2 separate regions of the Homo sapiens genome follow, and region 2 is linked to region 1. A link means that fine-mapping ties the variant in region 1 to the expression of a gene that starts in the linked region. Tissue or cell type: cerebellum. Region 1 holds a variant in brackets; the other region holds the start of a gene. All regions are shown on one strand. Distances are between the middles of the regions.

What was found. PIP is the estimated chance that this variant, and not a neighbour inherited with it, causes the effect.
Region 2: SNX31 starts here. The variant in region 1 is the best candidate, but not a certain one, in a credible set for the expression of SNX31 in cerebellum (GTEx, PIP 0.58).

The regions. Positions count from the first base shown.
Region 1 is chr8:100,568,277-100,572,671 of GRCh38, reverse strand. No RefSeq gene overlaps it. Among named protein-coding and RNA genes, the nearest start is that of ANKRD46, 11 kb to the right of the region's middle. The variant G/A (reference allele first, on the strand shown) is at 2,233.
Region 2 is chr8:100,647,635-100,652,024 of GRCh38, reverse strand. SNX31 (sorting nexin 31) reads left to right here and starts at 2,360. Exons shown (of 14, transcript NM_152628.4): 1 at 2,360-2,576; 2 at 2,677-2,751. The coding sequence starts at 2,511.

The sequences.
Region 1 (4,395 bases):
CAGATTAAAATGGAAGTTTATCTACTATTTTGCCAATTTAAGAGTAGTCAAGCTCTATCTCTTTTTAATAGCAAACACCTACACAATGGAAGAGGCTATCAGAGAAAACAAGAATGCAACAAATTGTATTTGGAGTAAGAAGACACATAAATTGAACCATATATAATTGCTGTCTTTGTAGGCCAAAAATAGTTTTATGTTGACAATTTCATGTTTCAACTTGATATGTAAGAGAGTAATCCCAGACAACATGTGGTTGGTGTCAAAAGTGTGCTATGTGGGCTGGGCGTGGTGGCTTACTCCTGTAACCCCAGCACTTTGGGAGGCCAAGGCGGGACGATCACTTGAGCCCAGTAGTTCAAGACCAGCTTGGGTAACATAGTGAGACCCAATATCTATTAAACAACAACAACAACAGCGTAGTGTGGACCTGCATGTCAAAGGACGTCGGGGCCATCAGGAAAGCCCCAAGGGGAAGAGGGACTTTGAAGAAAGAGTAGAGCCATGTGAGCAAAGGTGGGGCACCCTAGAGAAAGGGAAGGATAGTTACAGATGGGAGATTAAATGTGGCATTGTAGAAAAATGAGTAAACTTGTTCTGTGCTAGCGAAGTTTTAGGTTAAGGGAGTAGTTAGGAGATAAAGCTAAGAAGTGGGATGGATCAGAAATATATGTATATCCTAATGCAGCATCTCTACAGTATATGTAGAGCAGTTTGTCCTTTGAGGATGCACAAAAACAGAAGCATTTTATTTAATAGTTTTTTTTCCAAACATTGAGATTATCATCAGTGTCAGAATATGAGAAGAAAAATACAATTGATGACATGCATTCCACAGTATATAAATATAACATGAAGAATAAAGGAACTAGGGTAGCACATGATAAAACAAAAATTGAAACAAAATTCAAAACTTATTTTGTAAAATGATACATTTCTTAGTAGTTATGTGAGAGAAGAAGGAGCTATTAGCCTTTTTGGGGGATTACTGGGCCTAGTTTTATCTAGGAATTTAGGAGTTTAAATCACTTCTGGATCAAAACACTTGATCATTGCGTAAAAAGTCAGAACTTCAGCTGCCAGAGTGAGCTCCCCAGCTGCAGGTGCTGGGAGAAGATGGCGAGTGAGACCCCCTCATCACTCCAGGAGGTGAGGACCTCACTCTGCGGTAGTCCCTGCCACCGGCACAGCCACCCCAGCACTGGAGAAGCCATCAGCTGGTGCGTGGCTTTATCAGGTAGGTGACTGTTGATATCCTTCAGTAACTGCTAATCCTAAGGGGTGTGACATGGCTTTGCCAATTACCAGCCTATGCCTTTGTCCACTCCTCATATCCCTGCAAAAATGGTCCCCAGGCAACCACATTTTCTCCTGCAATGTCTATATCCACCATCACTTCTTTCCACTTCTAGACATTCATATGAGATTTTACTGCTGTTTATACTCCTAAAATAACTGGCATAAACAATTTGCCCACAGGCAAACACAACTGAGTTTGAAAATTTCACACAAATCATAATGAGAATAACTATTGGACAGAGGTGATTAAATTGTGGTCAGGCCCCACCGAGCCCCTTTGGGCCCTATGGAGGGAAGCATGTGCAGGCTTTGATTGAAGAGCTGACAGCAGAGAAACATGCTACAGGGAGTGGCAGTGCCCAGAAGAGTTCCCCAATAAAATGGAAATTGTTTCTAGGGGATCATGCCACCTGGGGAATGCAAGAAGGAGATATTCATGAGCAGGGAGCCTCTTTACCCCCAGGACTGACACAGACTGTAAGGTGCTGCTGGTTTCTATAGACACTTGGACAGTGCACTGTGAACAGCTCTTGATTGACCAATAAGGAGCTGCTCTGTTTACAGAAAGCATTTCCAAAGTGAATGGACAACATCCTCCTGTTTGGAAGGCTGCTGCTTTGATCAAAGAAGGTAAAAACAGATTAGCTGAGGGGGCTGAACTGCATGCTGTCTTTCTTACAGTAATGGAAGAACTGAACAGTAGTAGAAGCCTCCATGTTTGGGTTTTTACTGATTCGTGAGCAGTGACCAATGGCCTGGCCATACACTCAGGCAAGAGGACTATGGAAATCTGATCTATTAAAGGAATGTCCATATGGTGCATAGCCCTATAGAAATTTGAGGGGTGCATTAAAGGAGAATAAGTCAATGCCCATCAGAAGAACTTCCTCCCCAGGCTGAGAAGGTGACTGGAATAGACAAGCAGTTATCTCC[G/A]TGTCTGCCCTTGTGGTCATCACCTGGTCCATGAAGTGAGTGGATATAGGAATACTGCAGCAGTGCAGAGATGGGATGAATCTAAACATGTTCCTTTTGCATCTTTGCAGGCACAGAATGCCAATAAGAACTGTCCTGTTTGTCAGCAAGAGAGACAGAAACTTCCAGTGGCTATGGGGCAGATTGCCTGGTGGGAAGGCCCTGACCAGAGCTGGCAAGTGAAACTGATGCTGGTAGCCCTGGGGGGGCTACACATTGGTCTTGACAGGAATTAGACACTGACTGTGGACTGGGCTTTGCTTCCTTAGTGGAAGATGAAAATGCTCAGAGCACCATAAAAAAACAAGAACTGAAGACTTGCATGGATTTGTACAGAAAACTGTCATTTCTTCAGACCAAGGAACAATGTATAAGCCATAATATCCAACAATGGGCAGAGAGATACCTCCTTAGAGTAATAGTTTAGTAATAGAGAAGTAGAAGGAGTATAAAACATTGGTTGTCTAGAACAGGGAGATAAATTATGAAGGGCTGGCTTACACACCTTCACAGGTAGGTGCTAACACTCAACATGAATGGGACTAAAGGAGTGTCCCCACTAGATTTTTGTGTTTTCTTTGTTTGTTTTTTTTTTTTTTTTTTTGGTTGATTTGGGAAGAGGGATTGGGGAGGATGCTGATATGACTATGCAATTCTTGCCAAGGGAGGAGTACACTAGTATAATGACTATAATTTTCTCTCTCTTCCCCAAACAACCTCAATTTTTTTTTCTCTCCTCTACCTGATGCAATGATCCTAGGACCAGGGCTACAACTACAAGTGCTGGAAGCAAGGATGATTTCTAAGCAAGAAGCTGTAACTACATTTTTAAACTTTGTATCTGAATTCCTAAGGGGATAATGGGGGCGGGTTGTGCCTTCACCCCATCTAAGAAATTGGGATCAAGAGTGAATGCAGCTATGTTCTCTGGTGGCAAAACTAGCTCACTAGTTCTGCACCTGTGTAACCTTACCCTATCTGAATGGCGGTGGATTGAGGAGGAGCTACTTGCTAGACTAGTATTGCTGCCCACAATCTAGACCAGCACAGTGGCAATTCTAATGTCCCTTCCAAAGGTGAAAAAGTTTGAGTATTAATGGAGAGAAGGAGAAAAAGTAGCTGAGAGTAAAGAAAAAAAAAAGGTTATTAATGGAAGGAAATTCAATATTACATTAATACCTCAAAAGAGTCTCAGAGCAAAAGATGACATGATGTCTCAGCTCAGTTATTCCAGATGCCTCAAAGGGTGAGGCTAGGTGCCAAGACCACTCCTGTTTTTGGCACCTGATAAGATTGAGAGGAAACCTGCAAACCTGAGTGACTTTACTCTGGGAGACATTCATACACAATGATGGACTGGACTAATTATTAATGACTGTGTGGGATTCTAGTAATAAGGCGATATCTTTTGAATTGTATGTCCTTTTGTAAAAATTATTTTTCTGTAGAGACAAGGTCTTGCTATGTTGCCTAGGCTGGTCTCAAACTCCTGGTCTCAAGTGATCCTACTACCTCTGCCTCCGAAAGTGCTGGAATTACAGGTGTAAGCCACCATGCCTGGCCTGTATATTCTTTTGATGAAAGGGATCTGTGTTTGAAAACCAGGGGGTGGCCTGATAGTTTAGAGTAAACGTTTAGTAATAGAGAAGTAGAACAACTAATTAGAACATCGGTTGTCTAGAATGGGGAGATAAAATGAAGGGCTGGTTTACATGCCTTCACAAGTATGTGTTAACACTCAACATGAAGGGACTAAAGGACTGTCCCCATCAGTGGCTGGTGGTATTATGATACATATATATTGGTTTTCATCCATGGTTCCTGGCTCATAACTCTAAAATCCCATATATATATATATAAGCTAACATCCTCCCCAGAACTAGGTCTCAGTTTACATCAGCGTGTGGTCAGCATACAGCTTGCACACATCCCCACATGGACATTTAAGCAAATTTTACATTAAACATTTCAGTTAGAAATTACCTTAAGATTACCCTCAAAGTAAAATTGAGAAGAGCTTGGTGTTCCTAATTTGTGGAAAAAACAAGTAGGTGCCAACCTTTGGTGGTAAAACAGTGGCAAAATGATTCTAAAATACCAAACAAAGGAAAACTACAAAAGAAA
Region 2 (4,390 bases), 79 kb before region 1:
CCTGGGTGACTGAGCAAGACACTGTTTCAAAAAAAAAAAGAATTAAAAACTTGTAAAGGGTGCGCTTGTCAAGTCGTGGTACAGATTTCCCCAGGCACCCCTGAAAAGCAGCTTCACAGAGCACAGGCTCTAGAGGCAGATCACTTACTTCACATCCCCCATCTACTATTCACAAATTCTGCAATTCAGAGCAAGTTTCTTCATTGCCCTATGCTTCAGTTTCCCCATCTGTGAAATGAGAATAATATCAGTACCTACTTCAGGCAATTGTGAGAATTAAATGACTTCATTCATGTAAAGTGTTCAGAGCAGCGCCTCCAATCGCTGCTACCATTATTATACTTCTCTCTTGGTCATGTTTGAAGATTGTCTTGCACAGTGTGGAGTACACAGAAGGAGCTCAATAATGTTCACTGACTGAATGACTGAATAAGAGCTGACTGGCTACAGCAGAGGTCAGGGATGCAAGAGGACGGTGACTTGCACAGAGGCCTGTCCTGTTCCAGTTCAACTCCAGGGGGGCACTTAGTGAAAGGAAGGAAATGGCCCTGTTTGGACATGCCATGGGGTGAAACCAGGGTCCAGGCCATTCACTGGAGCAGGAAAGTTCCAGGAAAGCTGGGGCCACTTCTGGGTCTGACCAAAATGCTCTGCTTTGCCCTGAAGATCAGACCAGATTCCAGAGCTGCCGTGATCAGGCTTTGTCCCAAGAGGCACTCAGGAATACCCCTGGCCTTGGTATAGGGAGGCCTTCCAGATCAGAGATGGCCTATGGGCAGGGGAAATACCCTAAGGCCCATCTATCCTGGACTGAAAATTCCCTTGAAGTAAGTAGAGTTATTAACATGATTTCATAAGAAGGAACTGCAGCTTAAAGAGTGCACTAATTTCACACTTGTAATCTCAGCACTTTGGGAGGCCGAGGTGGACAGATCACCTGAGGTCAAGAGTTTGAGACCAGCCTGACCAACATGGAGAAACCCTGTCTCTACTAAAAATACAAAATTAGCCGGGTGTGGTGGCGTATGCCTGTAATCCCAGCTACTCAGGAGGCTGAGGCAGGAAAATCACTTGAACCCGGGAGGCAGAGGTTGTGGTGAGCTGAGATCGCACCATTGCACTCCAGCCTGGGCAACCAGAGCAAAACTCTGTCTCAAAACAAAAAAAAAAAAAACAAAAAAACACAAAAAACACTAATTTGCCCAAGGCCTCTCAACTAGAAGCCACTAAGCTGGGACATGAATTCCTGTTGCCATTCTCTTAACTACTATATGATACTGCTTCCCTCACTTAATGGCCCTAGCCTCAATTTCCTTTTCTATAAGACCAGAACTGTCAATGGCTCCTAGCCCACAGGTGTTTGTGAAAATTAAATGGCATAGCATATGTCAGGTCCTGGCACCCAGCAAGCACGCAGGAGGCACCGGTGTTTGGCAGGCGTCGCTTCTCCTTCCTTAGTCTCGGATTCCCGTTTCAGGCATGCAGCTCTTACCCCAGGGATGACTGGCATTTGAAAGGACTTTCAATGATCCTGATGAAATCCTGCAGTAAACGACTCAGACCCATGAAAAAAATGCCCTGTGAGCTTGGACAAGTTCCTCCACCCCCTGGGCCTGTTTTGTCCGTGGTAGGATGTCCTCTGTTTACCTGGAAGAGTTACGGGTAGATTAAAGGAGAGAGGGAAGAACGGAGCCAGCCCAGGCTTGCTACAGAACAGGCTGGTGAGAGCTGCAGCATCTCTGTGCTCTGTGATCACGGCAAGGTGGGAGGAATTCTAGTTTCATTTAACTAAAATAGAGAATTAGGAAGATTATTTTCCACAGCAACTAAAAATGAGAGACTGTTGAAAGAACTTGCACTGGGTAGTCCAGAGAACCAAGTGTTTATGTGAATGCACCTGTCTAAAAATGAGGGCTTCTCAGGGATCAAGAGAAACCCAAGCCATTTCCATTTGGGGGGGGCTTCTGGTATTTTAAGGGGAAAAAACAAGATTGAAAGAATAATACGAAAGCAAGGTTGCATATATTGCTGCATGTCTTGTGTTACATTTAACAAATGTCAGTACAAAAAAACTGACCAAACATAACTCTGCTAATCATAAGGCAGTTACTAGATCTATGTAATTACAGAAATCTTAATTAGTGCACTGCAGGCAGCGTTGGCAGGTAATGGGACACAAACTGTTTTCAAGCCCCTCACGGGCCTTCTTGGAGAAAATGCCAACAGTGGCCGATGTCCGGGGTGGGGGTGGCCGTGGATGCGCCCCAGCCCCAGGCGCCACCTATCCCGGGACCAGAGCGGCGGGGCTGGATGGGGCGGGGACTGGGAGGCGGCGCGGCCCGGCCCCGGCCCCACCTGTAGATGTCCCCGGCCGGCGAGAGCGGGCGCCGGGGTTCGCTCTGAGTCGCGTGGCAGGCCGCGCTGCGTCCACCGCTGCCGAGTTCAGAGCCGCGCACCGCCCGCCGCCGCAGGTCGGGTTCCCAGCGCTACTCCCAAGACACCGCTCAGCCATGAAGATGCATTTCTGTATCCCGGTGTCCCAGCAGCGGTCCGACGCGCTGGGGGGCCGCTACGTGGTGCGCCCAGGGCTGGGGTCAGGGTGGGCAGGGAGGGGGCCGGTGGCAATGCTCACTTATCCCTCGGCTCACCAGGGACGGGGTGTCTGTGTGTTTGCAGCTGTACTCCGTGCACCTGGACGGGTTCCTCTTCTGCAGGGTGCGCTACAGCCAGCTGCACGGTTGGAACGAACAGGTGAGCAGATTGGAGGCGGGTACGAGCCCATCCACTGAGACAGGTGGAGAAAGCTGTCCCCAAAGCGCTCTGTTCCTCTGACTCTGGCAAGACACTGGGCCTTTCACGGCCTCGGGCTTCCTATTGTGAAACAGGGTCCTGGTAAGGATGAACTGAATTGCTTGGCATACAGTTGGATGAATGCATGCTGCGGCTCCTGGTCGCCTACAGCTGTGAGATGAGGGAACCGGGCGCAGGTGATTCTTCCAAGCCCCTCGCAGTTGCAGCCGGGTGATCCCCGCTAGCGCCGCCTGGCAGGGCGCTGGGGCTATGCTGGGCCCCATTTCAGTGCCCGCTGTTCCCCAGGACAATGCTTCCCTCCAAAATTTGGAAACTGGGTCTAGATCAAGGCCTAGAGTCTTTGGAGTCTTGTACATGGGTATTTAATCTCCTTTGTCTCGAGAGTTTCTTAAGTTTGCCCCCTTTAAAAAGGTGTGTCTCTAGTTTTGTTTTTGAATGGCCATGAGGCTTCAAGTACTGGCAGGCTGGGAACCAGGGAACATGACTTACCAAGCTAGGATAGTTTCTCACCCTGCTGTCTTGACAGTATTTTCTCTGGGAGGCAGACTGATTTATTAGTCTGCTCTAATGGGTTTCATTGTTCTTATAAGGAGGTGTTATAAGTCTTCAAAATGGATTAGAGAAGTAAATGAAAGTTTAGAAATAAACTTTACACTCCTCCTCCACTCCCCCATGAATAGTGATTTTTGTTTTTTTGTTTTAGATTTTAGGTTATAAACAGCACATACCTAACATTAAAAACAAAAGTATAGGCCAGGCACCGTGGCTCATGCTTGTAATCCCAATACTTTGGGAGACTGAGGCAGGAGGATTACTTGAGTCCCAGAGTTTGAGACCAGCCTGGGCAACATAGCCGAGACCTTGTCTCTATTAAAAAAAAAAAAAAAAAAAGTGTAGAGAAAACTGAAAAAACTTTCCCAGAGGTAACAGCTGTTTTTGTTTGTTTGCTTGTTTTGAGAGAGTTTTTTCAGACAGTCTCTGGGTTTCTAGTGAGTTAGATACACCATGTTTCATTTAACCATCTTCTGTTGACCGACAGCTTAGTTTGTTTTTTCTGCTATTAAATTGTCACTGTAGCAAGCCTTCTTGCTCATACATCACAGTGCATTGGAAAAGTCCATTTTCAAGGTGTGATTAAGTATCTTTGGAGTCAACCAAGAACAGTTGTAATGTGGTTACTAGTTAATTTGAGTGGTCATCTTTGTATTACTAGTGCTGTGACCCAGTAGGTCCTTAGGAACGATTGTCAAATGATTGAATGAAGAATGGCATAGATTCAGACTTCTGGAAGATAAGAAGCTACTTGTGACTGAAACACATGGGGAATTGTGAGGACTGCAGAGGCAGGGATCTCAAAGGAAGAGAAAGGATGAGTGTCTTAGGCATTGGCAGGGGGAGGCAGGGTATCCTCTCCTACCCTCCTCTGTTTTCCTGCAGCTTGAGGTGGGGAAGGGGCAGGAGCAGAGCAGGAGGCAGCAAGAGAGCCTGTGACTGATCAACTGCGTCCTGGCTGATCACCTCACCTCTCCTCTGATCTTCAATTTTCTCATCAGAAATAATAAGCAAATGGGTCCTTATG